Linked DNA regions of Homo sapiens: region 1 is linked to region 2. Evidence: fine-mapped QTL for protein levels in blood plasma. A gene starts in region 2. The other region holds a variant in brackets. All regions are shown on one strand. Distances are between the middles of the regions.

Region 1 (10,974 bases), 150 kb before region 2:
TACTCACAATCTTCTCCGGAGTAACCGATGACGGACTCTGGCTCAGGGCCCTTCCCGAAGTCATTTTCAGCCTGGACTCGGATCTCATAGGGCACGTAGACTGGGGTCTGCCCCACCACGTAGCGAGAGCCCCACACTGTGACGTTGTTCCAGGCCTCTCGAGTCTCTCTCCGCCTCCACTTGACAATGTAGCGCAGGTTGGGGCCAAAGGCCGAGGTGGCATTCATGGGCTGGGCAGAGGGACAGACAGGCTGGAGAGGCTGCCAGAGAGGGGCCCAGATCCACCCACAGCTTGCCCTCTCTTGCTGTGCCAGGCATCCCTTCCAGATGTGCCCAACACTGGCCTGCCCCCTTGCAGGGTAGGGAAGACCATATCCCCCACCCCAGTGAGTCCCCCAAAAGCCCAAGGTCCTGTGAACCCAGCAGCATGCAGATTTTCTGTGACACAGGCTTCGCCTGAGACCCAGTTACTCTGACTCTGAGAGCCACCCGCATTTGTAGGTGCAAAGGTTTTATTTTCAACAAAACTCCTTCCTGTGACAGGAGCAACCAATAAAGCAAAATATAGACAAAAGGTAAACTTCTCCAAAGTCAGAAGAAATGAGTTGTGGTTAACCACAGCATGGCTCCTGCTAATGAACTCAAAATTCCAGAATGGACTTTAGTTCTACCGAATTTGTGTGTGTCTGTCCTGTCCTTCCCAAGAGGTCAGAGTTCTTTAAACATGGGTGTGATTCTGCTCTTTATTTTCTAAGGGCCTGGCCCAGGAATCAGTCCTCTTGGAGCCTGCTATACAGAGCCACAGACCAGGGTCCTGAATCTGGGCTCAGCCCAGCTGCCGTTGCCCTGTTTGGCCAAGGCTGCTGTGGGAGCAGCCTTCAGAAAGACAGGGAAGGTCATGATCCCAAACACTGCATCTCCCAGTTTCCATTACTCATGGCAGAAGCTCAGAAATGTTAATATTTCAGTGGCTGCGTTTGCATTCTCAGACTGGGAAGTGGTTTGGGAAAAAAGTCATTTTGAGACCACATACTCCAGTTTTGGTTTGGAAAATGTAGTCAGTGAGCCAGCATGAAGATGGGATTTTCTAAGACCAGAGGGAGTCTTTGGAATGACCTAGTCCATTCTTGGACCAAAAGAAAGCCTGTACTGGACACATCTCAGATGTTGGTCTCTCCCCAGCTCCCACAAATCTCCAGTGAAAGGGCCCTAGGACACACCAGAACTTGGTTTGGTGTTGTGCTTAGATCTTTTCTAAAGTCTAACCCCAGTCCCTCCTCCTTCAAGAGAAGTCTGCTTGATTTTGCTGCATCCTCTATGCGTTTTGCTAGACTGGCAGTCGGTGGACCCTGGTCCCCTCTGCTCCTGTCTCCTCTCTGAAATCTTACACTTAGACATTTGTCCTGTTTGGTTTCTGGATGCCCAACTCAGAGAGGAGCTTGGTTTCTCAAAGAAGAATGGCCACCAAGACCAGCCAGAGAGTCTGAACCACATCATGGCCTCGTAGTGTCGGGGCATCAAGGGAGAGGGGCTCCCGGTGCATGCGGCAAGGTGAGCTGCTCCACTGGGGCTGGGAGGGCCTCTTACCGTCCACGTGATCTCCATGTTGTTCTTTCTGGTCCCCTCTCCCTTCACGTCACCAGGATTGGACTCGGGGGCTGGAACCCAAACAGACACAGGCTCAAGTCCAATTTGTGCCTTTCCAGGGCAAGGTAAGGAACCTTCCTCTGTCCTACCTGATGGGTCTGTTCTATGCTCTGTCTTTCCTCGGCATCTATGTATACGCTTGGTCTGGTATGTAAATGAGCTTACTCTGTGCATGATGTGCCTTTTGAGCTGAGATTTAAACTCCCAGAGCAGGGCTAATTTCTTCTGAATTTTAATCCTTTACCAGACAGCATTTATCATAAGGCTTTCCACACTGTGGGTGGTCAGTAAGCCAACTCAATGTGGATTAGCTCCTTTGTGGATTATCCACTAAATGTGTTTCATACCAGACTGGCTTATCCCTGGCATTTAACATTTTTTTTGGGCAGCATCTCTACCCTCTATGAGCTGGTGTGATTTCAGAAATCCAAATATTACCCAAGAGTGTTAGGAAAAGAAATCTGATGTAATACCAATTTATATATTTCTCACACTGAATTATGTATTTCTGCTGTACCTCTTTGCCACAGCTCTCCCCTTTAAAGCAGATAATCAAGAATTACTAATAATAAAAATGGAAGTTAGCATTTATCATGTGCTCACTACATGCCAGGCATCATAGTAAGTACCTGGCACACATTCTCAAATGTTCACAACAGCTCTGTGATGTAGGTGTTATTATTACTCTCTGCCTCACAGATGAGGCCGGGCCTTGGAGAAGTTAAGTAACCTAAGTTCACATGGCTGGGAATGGGGGGATCTCAGTGTGAGTTTGGGGTGCGGGGTTCCGGAGCCTTCTCTGGCAGCCCTCGGGTACTCACGTGCTCCACTGGTTCGGTAGCGCTCGGATGGGAGGCTGGGGTGGCTGCTCCCAACCTCGTTGATGGCAATGACACGGAACTGGTAGTTGACATACGGGGACAGCCGGAGGACGGCTGAGTTAACGCTGCCGGGGTACTTGGAATGGTCATGCCAGACCCCAGGTTGGAACTGGTCTTCTTCAAACTGGACGACGTAGTCTGAGTGGGCAAGGAAAACAGAGCTGTTTCGGGAGCTCAGTTAGCAGTGGTCTTCTTTAAAAGCACTTCCTTCTTGGCTTCCATTGATCTTTATAATCTCTCTCACACAAAGGCACAAGGAGAATTCTTCCCAAGGCACAGGAAGAGACACCAAGGCCTCTGTACATTCTGAGGTTAGCCCAGGACACACATCAAGCGAGGCAGAAGTGGGGCTGGAAACCAGGAAAGGCCTTCGGTTTAAGGGTGTTGCCGTCCCTCTTTTCCAGCTTTGGGGTGCAAGGCCCTGAGCTACCTGTGATGGGGCTGTTGTTAGCATCCCCGGGGATCCAGGTCAGCCGCACGCTCCTCTCGGCCAGGTCGGTCAGCTCCAGGTCCCGGGGCCGGTCTGGCCGTCCTGGTGGCAGAAGACACCACGCAGGCCTCCTGAGTTAGAGCAGGTCCACCCTTGTGATGGCCCTAGCCCTGGACAGCTCCCTGACGGGCTGTCTTCGCTACCAGCTGGATCCAACCCCAGCCTGCCCTGAGGGGTGAGCACAGGGACCACTCCCTTCCCACAGGGGCCCAAGGGAAAACAAAGAGGAGACTCCTGAAATCCCAGCCCCCCCCCACAAAGAATATCAATGGGTGTGGAACAAGGAAATAAAGGGGCTTATGCAGACAGAACTGGGACCAACGCCATTCCGTCTTGGTGGATCTTCTGAGAGTGCAAGCATTCAGGAATGCCACCCGTCATCAGACCCATGCTCACGACACTTAGGAAGGCTGATGAGGGAGTGTGGGATTCTGTCCCATTTTCTCACATTAATTGTCCTCTACTTTGTGTGCCAAGGCTCTGAGGAGATGGGAACCCAGGAGAGGGCTTGGCCTGCTGAACATGGCAGATGGGTTAGGGGAGTGGGGGCAACAAAGAGAGGGGATCAGACCAGGGAGGAGATGGAGACTTGGCTTAGGCATTTCATTGATGGACAGCAGGACAGAAGCCTAGCAGGCTTGCAAACAGGGGTGAGGGCAGCACCTTTTTTAGGGCATGAATCTCACTGGGACTGCTTTAGTGGGTCTAAGTGCCATCCTGGCCTGGGATAAAGACATCGGCTACTGAGTGGTACGGGTAGGCAAGATTTTCTCTCCATCTTGACTCCCTGAACCAGGTATTTCCATCTTTCAGATGGTCACTAGAAGGACTTGGAAGGTGAGTCCTACAGGCCCACGTTCACGTATGTGTGGCATGTGTGTGTAGATTGTAAATGGATAGAAAGCAATAGATGCAGGGAGGCTGAACAATGAGTTTCCAGGTGATGTGAAGGGAGCAGGCTTTCGCATTCCCTGCAAACAGGACCTGAAAGACTGCTGGGAGGACAGGCCACCCTGAGGGAGCGGTGAGTGTGGATGGAGGCAAGGGATGGGGTAAAACAGCAGCCGAGAACTTCCGAGCTCACCCTGTAAGGAGCAGGAAGCCCAGCAAAGGGCCGTGGGGAGGTGGACGTGGGCAACTCAAAGGAGGTCCCATGTAGCCAGGAGTGCTGCCCACAAACCTACACACTGTCGCCCTTTCCCAAAGTGGCTTCCTTCTCCCAGACTCCACACCCTGGGTGCCAAGAGAGGGCACTGGCAGGGGACTGTGATTAGTGGGAATTACCTTTGGGCAGGGCAGCCAAACGGTTAGTTGGAGTGGCCTGATCAGCTGCAAAGGTAAGACGGGTTATCCAGGTTAGCAGGTTATCCAGCATTAAAGGTGTTCTAGAAGGATGGGGGTAGGCAGCCGAGGCTTAAACAGCTGCCTCTGGGCTGAGGTGTTCTAGGCAGGGCTGTCCCCGTCCTTCCATGGGGAATCCCCTACCCTTATAGAGGCCATCTGTGTTTCCTCCACAGCTGGGGGCGGCACCTCTGTTTCCTTACCATCCCAATGTGACTATCGTGTCTGGGCCCACCCTCTCTGCAACTGTGCCTCTCCACTGCGCCAATGCTAGTGGCAGTAGGGCACCCACGGGGAGGCAGAGGTGACAGAGGACCTGCTTGCCTGGAAGGGAGAGGCCTCCTTCCTCTTGGTTTGGGTTAGCTTAGTATTTACAGTCCAGCCTGGGTGCAGGACAGGAAGACACAACGTCATCTTGCTTAGTGCATAGCATGTGATGAAACGCTACCAAAACCCAGGGATGGAGCGGGAGGGAAAGGAAGGCTGGCAGAGGTCATTGGAAGCACAAACACAAACTCAGTCTTGCTTTAAGGATGGATTGTTTTAATTGACTTAGTGGTGGAGTTAGCTGTAAGAAAGGTAAAATGATCACAACGAGAAACCCCTCTCCACTTTCTCTATATCACTCAGGCCCCTTTCAGTTGAGACGTGGGGAAGTTAATGACTCCACTCAGGAGGTAACCTGTCCAGCACAGCTTGTTCTGAAACTGGCAGCTCCCTAACCCTGACATCACGAGGCAAGAAGAGATCACCACGCCTGACCCGGCCACTTGACTGCAGGCACTGCCCTCGGAACTGCCCCGGGCCACTGCTTCTCTGGCTGCTGGGGAGGGGGTGGGGCTGGTCAGTGCCAGGGTGAGCATGGGCAGTTACCTAGCACGGTGAGGTAGGCCTTGGCCAGGTCTTGGTCTAGCTCGGTGCTGGCGACACACGTGTAACTGCCCTGGTCCCGCTCTGCCACCCCAAAGATGGTCAGGGAGTCGTCTTCCTTCTTCATCCTGCAAAGGTACCGAGGAAGGGTTGGGAGGAGGGGGTAGGGGAGTGCTGAGTCCTGCCCATTGCTTTCTCCCTAGAGGGGGTTCTCGAGTCAGGAGGGCAAGGGAAGCTCCTTCTGGGGGTATGAGGCTCCCTCTCAATGCTTTGACAGAGGTGAGGTCTTCACAGTCACCTGGAGCACTCATCATACTTGATGGAGGGGAACAGAGAGTGGGCGGAGCTCAAGTGGCTGTGAAGCACGTTTGCCACCTTCAAATTCTGTACGTGTGCCTGCCTCTGTGCCTTTACTGTGCTGTGCACCCCTCCCAGATGAGGGCACCATGAGGCCCATGACCCCAAGGTAGGTTGGTATTCCTTCTCCTCTCATACTTGTAGCTTTGTCTGTCTTCAGCCCAGACTTGTCTCCTCTGCACCCATGCTCAGGCCAGCCTGACCCCAGGCTCCTGGGAACTGTCTCCTATAGAGAGGGGAGGCCACAGAGCAG[A/G]ATGGGGCTGTAGAGCTGTCAGCACTGAGTGCCAGAAGGTTTACAGAGGGGAACACCCTCTGCAAAAAGTCAAATGATGGCTAGAAACCGCTGGTACCGTGTCCAACTGCAGGGCCCTGCACAACTTTGCTCCCTCGGGGTGGAAGAAGGTAAAGCAAAGTAAGCCCTGGGGAGGGAGGCTCGGAACAGTGGTTCTCAACCCTGATGCACACTGGAACCCCCAGGGGGACTTTTAAACCCTGCCAGTGTCCTAAGTCCTACCCTACACCAATGAAATCAGGGTCTGAGGAGCGGGGCAGGCGTGGGTGTGGTAAAAGCATGCCAGGTTCAGTCAGGGCTGAGAGCTGGCTCAGATCAACCCTGCCCTCTGCTGAAGATTAGGGGTACTGCAAATAGGGCTGAAAGGCTGGAGCCTGGGATGCAGCAAAGGAGGAAAAGAGAAGACAGGGGCAAAAATGAAAGGGAAAAGAGGCGAAGTGAGGGGAGACAGGGAGAGGAGAAGTGAAGAGATTGAGAAGAGGGAGAGAGAGGAGGTGTAGGAGAGAGAAGCAGGGAGCTGGTGGGAGAGAGGGAGGTTGTACAGGGTCGGTGGGGGGGTCTCCCCTGAAGCAGGGGAGTTGCCCAGGCCATCACCCCCTCTGCAGAAGCTCCTTGGTGACATGCATGACACGGGTTCCCTGTCCCTGTGTTCTTCCATGTGTCACCAACAGCAAGGGAAAAGAAAATGCGCCTCAAACTAGCACTAGGAAGGGGGAAGGGGGAAGAGAAACCTGTTTCCAATATAGAGCGGCTCGTCATCCTTCAGCCAGGAGACGGTGAGTTTCAGGGAGGGGTCGTGCTTCACCCGACACTCCAGCTGCACCGTGGTGCCCCTTCTGGCCACCTGGTCCTCGGGCATCCGGTAGATCCTGGTGGGGTCTGTGGAGAAGCCCAGAGCACTCGCCACTGGCCTGTTCTCTGCCCAGCATCCCCATGCGGCCACAAAGTGGCATATGTCTGCCCTCGAGGCCTTGGGCCAACTATGGAGTGGGGCACAAACAGTATGCTATGGTATGAACGGAGCAGAGTTCTGGGTGGGTAATCCCCAAAGCAGATAATGCCCCAAATCCACTCCATCTGGCTCAGGAATATATGATGTAATTTCTGGGCTGGTAGTGGGGAGTTGGTGTGAGCAGAAGGTTTCCCTTCCTAATTCTCTTTGGACCACACTGATCCTAAAAGGACTCCACAGGTGCAAACTGGGCAGCCCACTCCAGGTTAAAGACAGGTGTGGTGCATTTTCAATGTGAATATTGTATGTGGATAACTGCCAGCATGGCCTCCTTGTCCCTCTCCAAACTCCCACTGGCGAACCCTCTCCTTTACCTTTGACCTCCAGGCGGACTTGGTTTTCAGCTTTGCCCAGGATGTTGGTGGCGACACAGGTGTAGATGCCCTGGTCCTCTTTGCGGATCATCTTAATTTCCAGACTGCCGTTCTCATAAACATGGTAGTTGCCACCATCCAGGTTGCTTCCTTGCCCATTCTTAAACCTCACAACAGAGCAGCAGAACACACAGCATCCTGAGACAGGACCAGCCCAAGGGCAGGGGCAGCAGCCAATCAAGAGAGACCATGGGGGCTGTGGAAGGAGCCCCATGCTAGGAGACTGGAGCCCTGAGCCTCGGAGGGTCTGCCTCTAGCCACCAGGTGGCCCTGGCAAGCCTCCATCCCTCTCAAGGTCTTGGTTTCCCATTCTGTACAATGAGGAGGTTGATCCAGATGATCTGCTAACTTCCTCCCAGCTTTGACCCTTTAAGATTCCCAGGTCTTGCTGAACACCTACTATGGGCCAGATGGGAAGGAGAAGATGAGACAGGTGACCCCTGCTGTGGAAGGCCTGATCTCCTGGAACTTACCATCGCAGTGTGGGGATGGGAGACCCAAAGAAAGGGCAGTCCAGCCGCGTCCGGTTGTAAAGAATCACTCGAATGAGCTGGTTCCGGGGCGACAGCATCCGAGGCGGCACATCTGAAATTCCCAGAGAAGCAATCTCGAGTGCCAAGTCTAAACTCTTCCATCTCTTCCCCCTCGGTCTCACCTCTGCATGCCTTCTGCTTACAGCAGCTTCCCAGGCACTGAGACACCTTCCCCTATCAACCTTCCCTCCTTCAGGAAGCCCCTAAGGATTAGGTGGGGAAGGAGAAGCTTACTACGTCCTCTGCCCTCAACCTACCCTACATCCAAATCCAGCTTTTGCAAAGGGTCTCCCCAAATTATCCAGCAGGTTCCATAGCTGCCCCATCACAGCCCTAAGGCATTTCCTAGCTACCCCTCCACCACCATCTCCCTGCCCAGCGGGTACAGCAAATATACTCAGAACCATTTCCCACCGTGAGATCCAGCTGCGAACCCAGGGGAAGTCAACATGGATACACCAAGGCGATGGGACAGTCCCACTCTATCTCATCAGGGGAGGGAGAAGACTAAGATTGACTGCTCTGATGGAATTAACTGTCTGCTCATCCAGCTTTGTGAATTTTAAGTCTTCCATCTGTACAATGAGGAGGTTGATCCAGATGATCTGCTAACTTCCTCCCAGCTTTGACCCTTCCATCCCTCTCACAAATTTTTTCCCATCTCCATGTTTCCCCTATCCAACATCCTCTTACCTCACCCAGCTTGGCCAATCCCCGGAGAAGAAAGTGTGCCCCACGACATAACCAAGCCCCAGGGCGACTGTGCAGTAGTGGAGAGGAGGGGGAAACAGGCTGCGAAGGGCACACTCACCCAGCACACTGACAAAGGCGTTGGCCAGCAGGTAGCCATGCTCGTTGGAGGTGTTGCACTGGTACACAGCCCTGCTGCTGATCTGGGTGTCCCGGAAGATGATGGTGTCTCCGGCCACCTCACGGTTTGGGTTAGGTGGTGCCGCTACAGACAAGAAAGAGACGCTCCTCATGAGAGATGGGGAGGGCAGGGTGAAGGGCACTTGGGGCTCTGGCCAGGGCTCCCAGGAACAAGCGGGGTGCTGTGGGGAGCACCAGATGGGGGGCCAGATGACAGGGCTTCTGGCCTTGCCACTGCTGGGCTGTGTGTGACCTTGAGCCCTTCTCTGAACCTTTGGGGTTTATTTCTAATCTAGCCTAGAGTATGGAATATGAATTCCTGTTCGACCTACCTACCCATTGGGCAGTTGTGGTTGAGAGCATTAGCTTTGGAAACAGAAAGGAGTTTTGGTTCTAACCACATCACTTCCTACCAGCATCATTCAATCTCTGTGAGCTTCAGTTTCCTTGTCTGCAGAATGGGAATAACAGATCACCTCATGGGGTTTTTGTGAAGATAACCTGAGATTTTATGCATGTACAAAATGATGAACAGAAGGTCTAACACATACTGTTATTATCATTTTAATCGAATGTGCATATATTTAAGTGTGTTTTGAAAAGGACAAAACAGTATACAATAGACAGAACCTACCACCTTCCCATCCTCCAAAGAGAGCATGCTCCAAACATTCATAAAGTTAAACCCATAAGCCAATGCCTCTTGAAAATGGAATGAGTCATTTTATTTGACAAAGCTCACAGCTCTTCCCCAAAAATGTGTCCTAAACTGAGAGAGGATATTCTTGCCCACAGTTCTAGTACTGCTGGCTTGGGATGCAGAGAGCAGAGGCTGGAGAGGGCTGGGGGTCCACACTTCACTCTGGGATCTGGGGTAAATCAACAAACCTTTCTGGGCCTCATTTCCTTCTTCTGTAAGATGGGGAAGAATCACTTCCACCTTTCCCCTACTCTAAGAAAGGCTAAGATAAGAGAACAATAATGAGCTGTAAAAACAAAAATTTTCTAGAAATGTAAAGAATTGCCACTTTTCTCATCTTTAACCACTAGAAAGTGACTTTCCTTCCTAAGATTTCTGGACTAGGAAGCTGATGACTTAGCTTACAGAGTACATGAACGCATTCAAGATGACTCAGACCTACAGGGGAAGTCAGCGGAGGATGCAGGAGTCGCCCTGCAGGCGCCACTCCACAGATAGCCAGCCTGAGCCCAGAACCGGGGAATCAGCAGATGGGAAAGGAAGACAAAGTTAGCACCCTTATCATCCACGCCCGGGTCCCCACTCAGTGAAAAGGGACCAAGGAAGGCAATGCCAGAAACTTGTACACCTCCTTGCCTGGCAAATTCTCGTGCAACCAATAATCCCCCCAGTCACTCTCCTTACACGTTCCCTGGGGAGAGTGACAGGTGACCTTTCCAGGGCTGAGGCTCAGCTGCAAGTCCTGAGCTGCTTTATTGAATGGTGCTGTAAAGTTTAGCGCAATTGCCTAGCTTACCCCCAAAGTCCTATTAAGACGGAGAGAACTGTAGAGGGCAGGCAGTGTCCATATCTCTGCTTGTAGCTGGGGAGTAACATTTACTGGGGATAACTAGGTTCAGTACTAGCTGGTGCAGTTGTATTGCAGACTCACAGCAACCCACAACTTCACCACTTCCTAGCCATGCGATTTTGGGCAACTCATTGCACTGAGGAGAACCTTATTTCCTTACCTTAAATGTTTGAAAGTAAAGCAACAATGGAGTGCAGCATCTAGCACAGAATGTGGCATACAATATATGTCTAAATAGGTAAATTCTTACCCTCTCCTCTACCTGTGTCCCCCCCTCTCCACCTGCTTCTACCAGCTGCTGCTCTTGAGTTAGACTGAGTTCTCGCCATCTACTTTTTCCCCATTTGGTTGATACCATTGTTTACATTTCCTCTGACCTCTTAGAGAAAGTAAGGACAGGACATTTTGAAAAGTAATGCAACCAGAGAGTCTATGATGTGAAAACTTGACCAAGGCCACTGATTATAAGGGGTCTTGGAGTCATCTACTCCATCCACCTGGGCAGGACTAAATGTCCCCAAAGTCTAAGCATACTCGATAAAGTGCACTTGTACATCTGCTCTTCTGGGGGCAGTTCTTCCTCATATCTAACCATAATATTTCACATTATTGTACAACCCTGCTTCTTCTTTTGCCCTTAGCAGAGAGCGGAACTTGAGTAACCAACAATGGGTTACTGAATTCTCCTCTACCTTCCCAGCCCCAGCCATCACTCAAAGCCCAACCACCCAGAGATGCAGCCACAGTCCCCAGGCCA
Region 2 (10,974 bases):
CAGGAACCACATTTCTATCTTTCAGAAGAAAGTAAGGCATTCAAAAATGCCTTCTAACTGAATCCTTCTAACAGATTTTCCTAGAAAGCCTTGTGCATGTGGATAAAACATCCTAGCTTTTTATTTTTCTACCTGGGGTTGGAGGCGGGGAGGGGGTGGGAGGTGGGGCTCAGTACGACATATGGGAGAGGAGCACAGGCTTTGAAGTCAAACAAATAAAGGTTTAGATTCTAGCTCTGCAACTCACCTGTTCTGTAATCTTCAACAAGTAACAGCTTCTCTGAATCTGTCATTTTCTGTAAAACCAGCAACTTAACAATATCTCATTTGTAGGGTTAACCCTTTGAGGATGAAATGAAATGATGCATATAAAGCATAGAGTAGGGTGCCTAGCACATAGAAAGAACTCGATAATGGTGACTATTGTTATTACGCCACTTTTATTTTTTTCTGGCTTGCCTCAAGACCTAATGAAAAAAGGGTGGCCTGAGAGTTCTCAAGCTGGCACAATCTAACCAATGTCCTGGGTCAGCAAAGCTGTGGAAGTGCCTACTCAAGCACCCCGCACAGCCATTAACTCCCAGGCCCTCTTCTGCAGTCCAGGGACCAGGCCATATGCATCCAACATCTGCCCTTACAGTTAGGCCTGGGCCCTTGCAGCTAGACCTGGGCCTTAGCTGGGCATTGTAAGTGCCCAAAGGTTTGTCATCAACTTGCTCAAGCCAAGGCAGGGGTCTGTCCAGACAGTTTGGTGCAATCACTCCAGATCCTACTGCTCACTATGACCCCTCAGCCATGCTCCTACAACACCAGGAATTCATCTAACCTCAATTATAGCAGTTCTTGTGCTGAGTCTTAATTTGGTTTCATTTCTGTGTCTCCAATTTGACTTACATGCCCAATAGCTTGCACAGCTCCTGACAGATTCAAAGGCTCAGGATACATTGATGAAATGAACAAAAATGGGTGTGTGGGGGAAAAGAGGGGCTACTCAGACAGATGAAACTGACAGTCTCTCTCCTTAGGCTATTTTCCCACTTCGGCTATGGATATTTGCGGGAATCTGTGGTCAAGTGTATAGCTTCTAAGGACCTCTCCTGCTTACCAACAACTTGCCCTCCCCATCAATGACTCCCACCTGACTCTGACCTCCCCATAATGCCAAATCCTTTCACACACCTTGCAGGTGTGTGAACCTTGCAGTCCTCACAATATTTTTCCTCGCCTTGCCTCTCAGCACATCCCTGTGCATCTTGCCTACACACGAGTAGCTCCCAGAGCCTCTTTCCTCTGACTCACTGACATTCTAAGCATATCCAGCCACACTTTACCCCTAAAATACAAGAGCTTAGAAGATGGGATTGGGAGAGTTAAGCAGCCTCGACCTCATCACAGAGCTCCCTTTGGGTATTCCCCTATCAGGTTCTAGCCACATCTAGCCGGGTTCACCTTGTTCACACAGGTGTTCACACAGAACATTACCCCTCTAGCCCTTCAAGCTGGGGATCTGACAACACCTTGAACCTCATCTTGTCCCCTACCCTTTTCCTGAGAGTCAACTTCAGGGTCAGCCCTGAGCTACCATTCCGGATAGCATCAGCCAAGCCCTCTTCATAGCTGTGGAGAGCAGGGTGCTGATACCACTGGAATTAAAGATCCCGCTGTGTAACATCCCTATCCGGATGCTCTTGCTCAAGCTTATCTGTTATTTGTCTGATCACCTGTCTTCCTCTTCCATTGCCCAGGAGCTCGGAGAGATTGGACCCTAGCTTACTTTTCATCTCTATGGTCTCAGCACCTAGCAGAGCAGCACACCGTAGGGCTTAATGGATCTTTGTTAAATGAGTAAGTATGAAACCGGCCTTACGTTCCTCTCACTTCTCCCCTCCCCACCCCAAACATCACCCCAGGCAAACAGACTGAGAACTGAATTTTTCTGCTTCCCCCTCTCTGATTTCCTAAGAATTTCTTTTTCTAAAGACAAAGGGATGATTCTCACACTCCAGCTCCTCCATGGTCTTGAAGATCTCAGGGTGCCTCTGGCCTCCAAAAAAGCCTGAGGGAGAAGAGTGGAGCCAGAGGTAGGAAACAAGTTGCAATATACTGATCAGAGCCTTGGCATCCTGTCTCTCACTCACCACAGAAATCAGACCCTCCTCTGGCCCACCCACCCCAGAAATGCAAAGCCAGAACCCCACCCCCAGCTCTCAGCCACCTCTTCAATGTGTGCCTTAAAAGAACCAGCCCTTGTGAGCGCAGCCAGTTCAGCCCACAGGGAGCTGGCTAGGTACAATTGGAAGGTCTTGCTCCAGCTCTCTGGGGAGCTGGCTTCTCCCTCCGTGTGCCTTGGTTTATTTCTCCGTACTCTTTCTGATGCCAAACAAGGGGGTGAGGGGTGAAATTCATTGCACAAAACTGGGAAATATGTACACTGTTATTAGAATCCCCCACTTCACCTGAGCTCCAGTCAAGCATTTCAACATCAGGACCTTAATCCAATCAGCTCTCAACAACGGCTGCAGGTAATGCTTTCTCCCTGTACCAGGAAAAGCTGGCAGCCCTTAGGCACTGATGCCAGGGAAAGCTTCCAGCCCCACCCCCTCTCACGCTGGAGAGGCGACGGAGAAGGGTGACAAAGCAAGGTGCAGCCAGTGCCCCCAGCAGCACATCCCCTTGCCAGGCACTGCCTGAGGCCCATTCAGAGTTTACTGCACAGGAGCTGAAGGAGTCCAGTCACTTGGATTCCTAAAGTGAAAGCCTTGCAGAGAAGGGACAGAGTCTGTCTGCAATTCGCTCTTAACGCCTCAATTTAAGCCTCTGGGTTTCGTCTAAGCCCCTAAGACAGGAATCGGGCTGCCATTCCCTGTTCCACAGTGGCAACCACAATTTCTGGGGCTAAGTGGGAGTGAGTCTCTTTCCTTACTGGCATAATTCTCTCTCTCTCTCTCTCTCTATACACACATCACACAACACACACACACATCACAACACACACACACATCACAACACACACACACATCACAACACACACAACACACCCCTTCAGTTGAATCCAAAGACAAGGGGAGAAATTACTCCCTCCGAAGTGCCAGCTCAGTCAAGACAAAAGGTGAAATGTATTAGCTGCGTAGCAGGCCCCCATCTCCTTCAATTCTTCCTGCAATGCAATTCCACCACATCCAATCATCCCCAAACCAGAAGGAGGATAGATCTCTGCCTGCCTTCCTCCACTGCCCCCACCTCACAGCTGGTATGGCCCCTATCCCCAGAGGCTTCCACTCTTCACACACATTTTCCCTGGGCTATTCTCCTATTGCTTTAAGTTCTGTGGGCTCTGAGGCTGGCTTTGGCTCCACACAAACAATTAAACTCCTGTCCAACCAGGTCTCAAAGCCCTGTGGCTTGCCCTTGCCTTGCTGGAGATTTGACTGAGGCCCAGCAGGGCCCAGCACATTTCCAAGGGTAGATGAGACGCACTAGGCCCTCATGCCAGGGACACAGGCAGGCAGAAAAGGGGTATTGTTGTCCTCTCCCCCACACTGAGGGATGAGGCATCTCTGCTCAACACACACACACACACACACACACACACACACACACACACCCCATGCCAAAATGCCAAGGAAGGAGTCAGGAGCAGAACCTGGCTCAGGACAGGATGGGGGCTGCCATGGGGACCAGATTCTAGGTGATTCAGCACTCTGCCCACTCTTGGCCCAGCCCATGGGCCACACTCATGACAGCTCCAGATGCCAAAGTGCTGACTTGGAGGCTGAAGCAGAATCTTTTCTAAAATCCAAAATTATCCAGCCCTCCAGCAGGGCTCCTCATCCAGGCCTTTACATCAGGGCTCAGGCCAAGCCCCAGGAGGAGTCTGCTCAGTCATTCCCCTGGACCCTGCCCCTTCCCCATCCTAGTTTCCCAATGCCTAGCACCCCCTCCCCCAATCCATCTAGGAAACAAACCTGAACAGCTAGAGGAGTAGAGTGGCTGCATGGCTGGAGAGGAACATAAGAGAGAGGCCTACTAACCCCCAGCATTCTTCCCCAAGCCACAAATAGGATCGAACATGCAGAAAGGGGTTATATTCCACAACCAAGATCCCCACCCAGGGAAGGGGGGTCCAGAGGCCACTGAGGGAGGGCTGGGTACAGGCTGTATGGCTCCACACAGCACCAGGAAGGGCAGCTAGGGAAGGTGACGGGTGTCAGGCCAGCTAACAGCCAAAGGGGGGAGAAGGCGGGGTTCTTGAGAGGGACTGTGATGCAGGAGGACACCAAGAGGCAGCTGGGAAGGGGCTGGGACAGGGCGTGCAAGGGGGAACCAGGGGAGGACAGAAACTGAGGGAGCAAATGGAGAGACAGGACACCAACTGGTAGGGGCATGAGATGGGGAAGAGAATAGGGGAGGCAAGAAGGGGCTGATGTGTGCGGTAGGAAATACAGGAGGCATGGGGTCATCCAAAGTGGGGTGTCGAGGTAAACAGAAGTACAAGGGCAGGCAGGGCTCACGGATGAGGCGGGGACAGAGAGGAAAGGGAAAGGGTTGAGGATGCGGGAAGGGGGAGGGGACGCGGCCAACGAGATAGAAAGGGTGTTGGGGTGGGCAGGGGGCTGGGAGCTGGACGGGGACGGGGTGGGCATACGAACAGAATCGGATGGATTCGGGGCAGGTGACAGTGTGGAGAGGGGAAGGGATGGGAATGTGGACGGAGGGGGAGGGGGCAGGTCAGGGGATGGAGACAGACGAGGGCGGGAACAAGGGGGTGTCGCTAGGTGGGTTTCCATGACTCTCTACCCCCATCTCTCCGGTGTTCGCGCTCGCCTACCTCCAAGGGCTCGGGCTCCGGCCCTGGGCGCTGTCCGAGCTGTCCGCTGCCGGCGCCGCCACTTCCCCCGCGTCCCCTGCAGCGCCTCTCGCCGCCAGCCGCCGCATTAGGGCAGAGACCAGCCCGTGCGCGTCCCCGGGCGGCCGGCGCGCCCCCGACACCCTGCGTGCGCGCCCCCGCGCCCCTCCCTTCGCGCTCCTAGCGGCCGCTGAGCGGGGACCAGGACAGAGGCGGAGGGAAGGATGCTCCGGACGCAGCCCCGCCTGGCGCGCTGGGGAGCGGTGCGCAGAGCCAGGGCCGGAAAAAAAAATCCTCCTTTCTCTTTTCACCTGAGGCCTCTTTGCGGGCTTGCCTGGAGAGTGATAACTAGTCTCCCCGTTTCCGTTCGCTGAGCACCTACTACGTGCAAAGCACACAGGAGGAAGTACCCTGAAGCCCCAACAGGATCGCTTGTTTGCACCTCCACCATAGACTGTGACTTTAGGGAGCAGGAAGTTGCCGGACAGCTTGTGTTCTCAGGGCCTAGCACAGAGACTTGTTTGTGGTAAACTCTCCAGCAACATTTGTTGATTGGCAAGTCGTTGGATCCTGATTCAGGGATGTGAGAGAGGTTGTGACTGCTATGAACAGTGCGGGGCTTTCTTTTAGAAATGGGAGATTTCCTCTGCCCTAGGGGGACTCAGGCCTCAGTCGTGGCTGGAGAACTATCTGACATGATAGCAAGACATTTATCTGTGGACATCAGTTTCCACAACTGAACCATGAAAAGTTGATTGGGTGGTCGCCCAAGGTCTCTTCTAGCTCTGACACGAAGACTGCATTAGGTTCTGTGCACAGGATCTGAGCTCAGAATTATCACCTGAAACAGTGGAAAGATCCCAGTTAGGGAATCATAGAATCTTTGTCTTGGAAGAGCACTTGGAAGCTTCTAGTTCAGCTCCTCATCCAAAACTACAGTCCCCTGCAGCATCCCTCTGTGGCCCCATTCAAGGGCTACTTTCTCTGTGCTCATAGCTCCTACCCTGGCACCACTGTCTTTTATTCTGGATGAGAACACCAAAGTTCAAGGAACCTGCCCAAGTAATAATTCAAAGCCCAGATGCATCTGACAGTGCCTAGTTAAAACTACTTTGCTATTTTAAGATGGGCCCTACAAGTTTTAGATTTCACCAATACTAGAATCTTCTAATATGGTCAAGTTGAAGGATCACAGGATTTGCCAAGAAAGTCCTGGCTTACCAGCAGGGTAAACTTGGGCAGTTCACTTAACCTCTCTAAGTCTTCTTTTTCCCATCTGTAAAATGGGCATAGAGTGAGCATCAATGAGATAAGGTACTGAACCAAACTGTTCTTTACAAATGTTAATTATTGTTCAGCCTTCCCTCCCCTTTCTTCATTACTTTTAAACAGCAAATACACGAAGGTCTAGAGAGATGGACCCCACACAGTGGTTTGGTGGTTGAAACTGAACTGGGACTCAAGTTTCATGGCCTTAGTATAAAGAAATTAAGTGTGGGCCTAAAGGGAGCATGGTGACCCCCAGAGGCCCTGAGGGTGAAGGTGTTTCCTTGGCCTCGGTGGTGTCCCAGAGCTGCAGGCAAGTCCTGATGGAGGGAGAGGCACCCCCTGCTGGTGATGGACTCTGGGGACTAAGAAGAGCCTACGCACCTTGCAGGCTGTTCTGCTGCTGTGTCAGGAACAGACTCACTCAGGACCGAGGGCAGAAAGTGGTTGCTCTTTTTCTTTCCTGACATTTATCTGGCCTTCCTGCTTCTTTTTCTTCCCTGGGTTTGCACCTCTAGTTCTGGCTGGAACCCTCAGCAAGCATGGACTTTCAACCCAGACCTGAAACCTCACTCACTGTGTCCTCTGTCATGGTGAATGGCAAGTCACAGGATTTTCACATTCCCTAGTGTTTCATTCCTCCCAATGAAATTCCATAAGCCCTGCCTCATCCTGGGCTCAGACCAAGAGAAAGCCCCAGGTATGAGTCTCGGGCACTTGAAGCCATCCTCTTCCACACTGGTCCCTAGGAAGTGTGGGGAAACTGGCAGATTCGTGCATCATTGGTGGAGGTTTAACTTGGTATGGCCTTTTTGGGAGAGCAATACAGCAGTACCATCAAGACTTTAATGACACCCTTGACCCATCAATGCCACCTCAAAGAATCCAGCCTGCAGAATCACTGGCCCAATCCACAAAGATGTGTATGCACAAGGATACTCAGTGCGGCTCAAGAGGACAATGATTACATCCATTGTAATAATCCATGCAATAGCACAGTTTTAAAAATTATAACAATGATAACACACACACATTTGTTTTTTAAAAAGCAAGTTAATAATGACATACAGGGAATAAAGGTATTATCCTTTTCTGGGGGAAAAGGGAAAGCAAATTGGGAGACAGGGTGGGAAGAAGAGGAAAGAGGGAATAATGCCCTGGGCTAGTTTAGAAGATAAGAGCAAAGGCCCTTAAGCTTACTAGGAAGGACCTAATTTTTGTTGAAGCCTTTCACATACTAGGCCTTTTGCATATATTATGTTACTCATTCCTCAGAAACCCCAGTGAGGTGGGGATCATTGTCCCCAATTTACTGATGAGGAAATAGATGCCCAGTGAGGTTAATAAGAGTACAGCATCACACAGATGGGGTGTGGTACAGTGTTAGCTTTGCCCCTAGAGAGATCTGACTTTTGTCCTTGGCTCCTGGGAGGTCATCTCTGAGTCCTTGGTTATCTCACCTGATAAGAGTATCTTTATCTACCTGGGGGTCTTGGGCAAAACCAGGTAGTCTATACTAACAATGATGGATGGTGGGGTCTTTGGGCATGCATCGGCTCAACCTCCAGAGGGGCTAGAAACTAAGGTCAACCACTTGGATGGTCAGCCATGACTACATGACTGAGCCCCAATAAAATCCCTGGACACTAAGGATTGGAAGAACTTCCCTGATTAGCAATATTTTGCATGCAGTGTCACACATTGTTCCTGGGAGACTTTAGCACTGTCCTCAGCTTCATCAAGAGAGAATAACTGCGATCTCTGCACATGCAACTCTCCTGGACTCTGCTTGACCTGTCTCTTCTTTTGGCTAATTCTAATCTGTATCCTTTTATTGTAATAAACCACCATTATGAGCCTATGAGCTCTCAGTTCTATGAGTCCTTCTAATAAATTACTGACCTAAGAGGGGTCTTGGGAATGCTTGAGCTTGCAATTGGTCAGAAGTAAGAATGGTCTCAGGGACTGCTTCCTAACTCTGTAGATGGTAAGTGGTGGAATTGGGAGTTGGACAAAGATCTTAGAGTCTCCAGGGTGTACCCTCTCCCACTGCACAACACTCCCTTACGCCGACCTATTGTATAACAAGTGCCAAAGGACAGAAACTCTGCCACTGATACAAAAGGGCTGGGCTCCCGGCTAAACCCCACCCTTAAGCCTGGAACTGTGGCCCTAAGTGGATATAGCTGACCCCACTTTTCCTCCCAAATGTTGCCTTTTTGGCCTGCCCTGCCCCTATCCCTTGCCCATAAAAGACTTTAGCTGGCAGAGAAACACAAGTGGCTGAGTGGCAAGGAGACAAGTGGCTGAGCAGTGAGCAGAGAAGCAACTGAACATCAGAGACTGTGGATAGACATGGCTAATTTCAGGCAGTGTGGCTTCAGAGAGGGGCCCAGATGGAGACAGCCAGGCTTCAGAGAAAGATTACCTTCCCATCCCCTTTCCAGGCTCCCTTTCCACTGAGAGCCAACCACCACTCAATAAAGTCTTCCACACTCATCACCTTTCAAACAGTTCATGTGACCTGATTCTTCCTGGACACTGGACAAGAACCCGGGTGCTGAGAGGGCAGGGGCTGCCACCCTGACCTTCCACTGAGCTGACTGACACTTGGCCATCTCTGGACAGCAGAGCTGAAAGAGCATCCATTGCAACACACTTGGATGCTGCTGCAGGGCCCACACAGAGCTTGCTCCCACCAGAGAGGAGTGACCGGCTAGTTCTAGCATTCGTTCACTCTGGTTCCCGCACTCACTCACACACTCCCTTCTGCCAGGAGTGGCCATCAGCAGGCTGAGTGAAATGAGCCACTCCAGTTCCTGCCCACAAAGGGGGTCAAGGGAACAATCCTGTGTCACTATCATGAGGAAGAACAAGAGCAGAGTGATAGTCATGCTGAGCTCTAGCAAAGCAGGTGGATGAGGATGCAGAAAAGCAAGCAGAGTAGCATGTTCAGAAGGAATGTAGAGGGGCAAATTTTAGAAAGTTCCAGGAATATAGGCCCCCCCCATAATGCAGGAGGGCAGGAAGACAGGTGCAGTGAAAGCCAATGGGAAAAACCACTAGGAATTTCCCATAGGTCCCCCAAGAAGCTACTAGACTCTTTGATCTCTTATCTCATCTCTCCCTCAGCATCTTCTAGTCTCTCCCTAGGCCAAGGGGGAAAGTTGCATCCCAATTTGCACACAGCATTAAGGGAAGGAGGGAGGGATCCAGGAACAGGGCTCTGGTCCTTCTCCCATTTGGCCAGTGCACACATGCTGGTGATCCAAAGCAGTGGCAGATGTGGAGACCCCATGCTGTCTGCAGGTCCTCATCACCCCCCAACACCTGTCACATTCTCAAGTGCCTAGAATTTTCTTCCCCCCATGCTGGGGAGTAGCCAAAGGAAAGGAAGCACTCAGCCCAACTCCAAGCTGGAGAGCATCTTTCCATCTGCTCTCTTACTTCCCGCTTTGAAATTAAAAAATAAAAATCTCCTTGGGAGTTGCCTCTTGCCCACCACTGCCAAGGGCCAGCCATAGAGCTCAGTTTATGAAGTCACTTGGAAATGTGCATGTGTTAGAGCTTTTACCTTCCAGATGCAGAGACCTCCCCAAGCTACATAGAATTAGTCTTCCACTGTACGTAGGTGAAATTCCATTCCTGGAATGGAATTTGAGAGATGGGGCAGTGAATGGGGAAGTTAGAGAGGAGGAGAGAGAAGCTTTGGAATAGCCATTAACCAGCCTTGACTCTAGGCCTGGGTATCAGACCTGTCCCTGCTCCAAGAGTGAGGGAGGCAAAGGGTGGAACTGCCCCACCGTCTGCTTTTATACAGAGCATGTTTCCACCTTTAAAGACTACCTTTGAATTTCACCTGCATAAATATATTAGAAAGAGTAGGATTTTTGGAGTCTTTCTCTACCATGATGAAAGGCCTTGTATTAGTCTGTTCTGTCATTGCTATAAAGAAATACCTGAGACTGGGTAATTTACAAAGAAAAGAGGTTTAGTTGGCTCATGGTTCTTCAGGTGGTATAGGAAGCATGGCAGTATCAGCTTCTGGGGAGGCCTCAGGGAATTTTACTGATGGCAGAAGGGCAGGCATCTTCACATGGCCAGAGCAGGAGGAAGAGAGGTGAAGGGGAGGTGCCACATACTTTTAAATAACCAGATCTCACTATCGCGATGACAGCACCAAGGAGGATGATGTTAAACCATGAGAAACCACTCTCATGATCTAATCCCCTCCCACCAGGCCCCACCTAAAACATTGAGGATTACAATTTGACATGAGATTTGGGTGGGAACACAGATCCAAACCATATCAGGCCTATACCTGTTTATTAACAATAGTAGTAAAATAAGCTATTTCTCTCTCTCTTACTTCTAATGAGCCAACCAGCAAGAAAAGCCCAACTGCAAACTCTCTCTATAAACATATGAAACCTTGTCTTTCTGGAGGACTTTGAGGACTGGTCTTCTAGGTGGGTTGCTTCATAATCCTGTCCCTAGACAGGGAAATATGGTCCCTCCCCAGGTGGGAACCCTGGAATTTAGAAAACCTTTATCAAAAGAGCTTTTCCTTTTGCAGTTGTCTTGCAAACGTATTTGTGTTAATAGTCTTGAGAGTGATTGTGCCCAGCTAACCACAAAGGCATTCATTTCATCTTAATCAAATGGTTAAAACATATTAAAAGCCTGGTGCGGTGGCGCATGCCTACAGTCCCAGCTACTTGAGAGGGTGAGGTGGGAGGATTGCTTGACCCCAGGTATTGGAGGCTTCATTGTGCAATGACCATTTTTGTGAATAGCTACTGCACTCCAGCCTGGGCAACACAGTGAGACATTCTGGTCCTTAAAAAAAAAAAAAAAAAAAA

Evidence for each region. A credible set is the group of variants that fine-mapping cannot tell apart. PIP is the chance, under the fine-mapping model, that this variant and not a neighbour inherited with it causes the effect. Sun 2018 read protein levels with aptamers (SomaScan).
Region 1: its variant is the best candidate, but not a certain one, in a credible set for the plasma level of the NFASC protein (Sun 2018, PIP 0.52).

Annotation. Positions count from the first base shown.
Region 1 is chr1:204,971,054-204,982,027 of GRCh38, reverse strand. It overlaps NFASC (neurofascin), which reads right to left. Exons shown (of 30, transcript NM_001005388.3): 12 at 8,609-8,752; 13 at 7,738-7,849; 14 at 7,205-7,371; 15 at 6,610-6,757; 16 at 5,233-5,357; 17 at 4,303-4,347; 18 at 2,959-3,060; 19 at 2,469-2,666; 20 at 1,588-1,658; 21 at 8-230. Among named protein-coding and RNA genes, the nearest start is that of CNTN2, 67 kb to the left of the region's middle. RefSeq lists a silencer at 6,180-6,299. The variant A/G (reference allele first, on the strand shown) is at 5,840.
Region 2 is chr1:204,822,637-204,833,610 of GRCh38, reverse strand. It overlaps NFASC (neurofascin), which reads right to left and starts at 4,959. Exons shown (of 30, transcript NM_001005388.3): 1 at 4,829-4,959.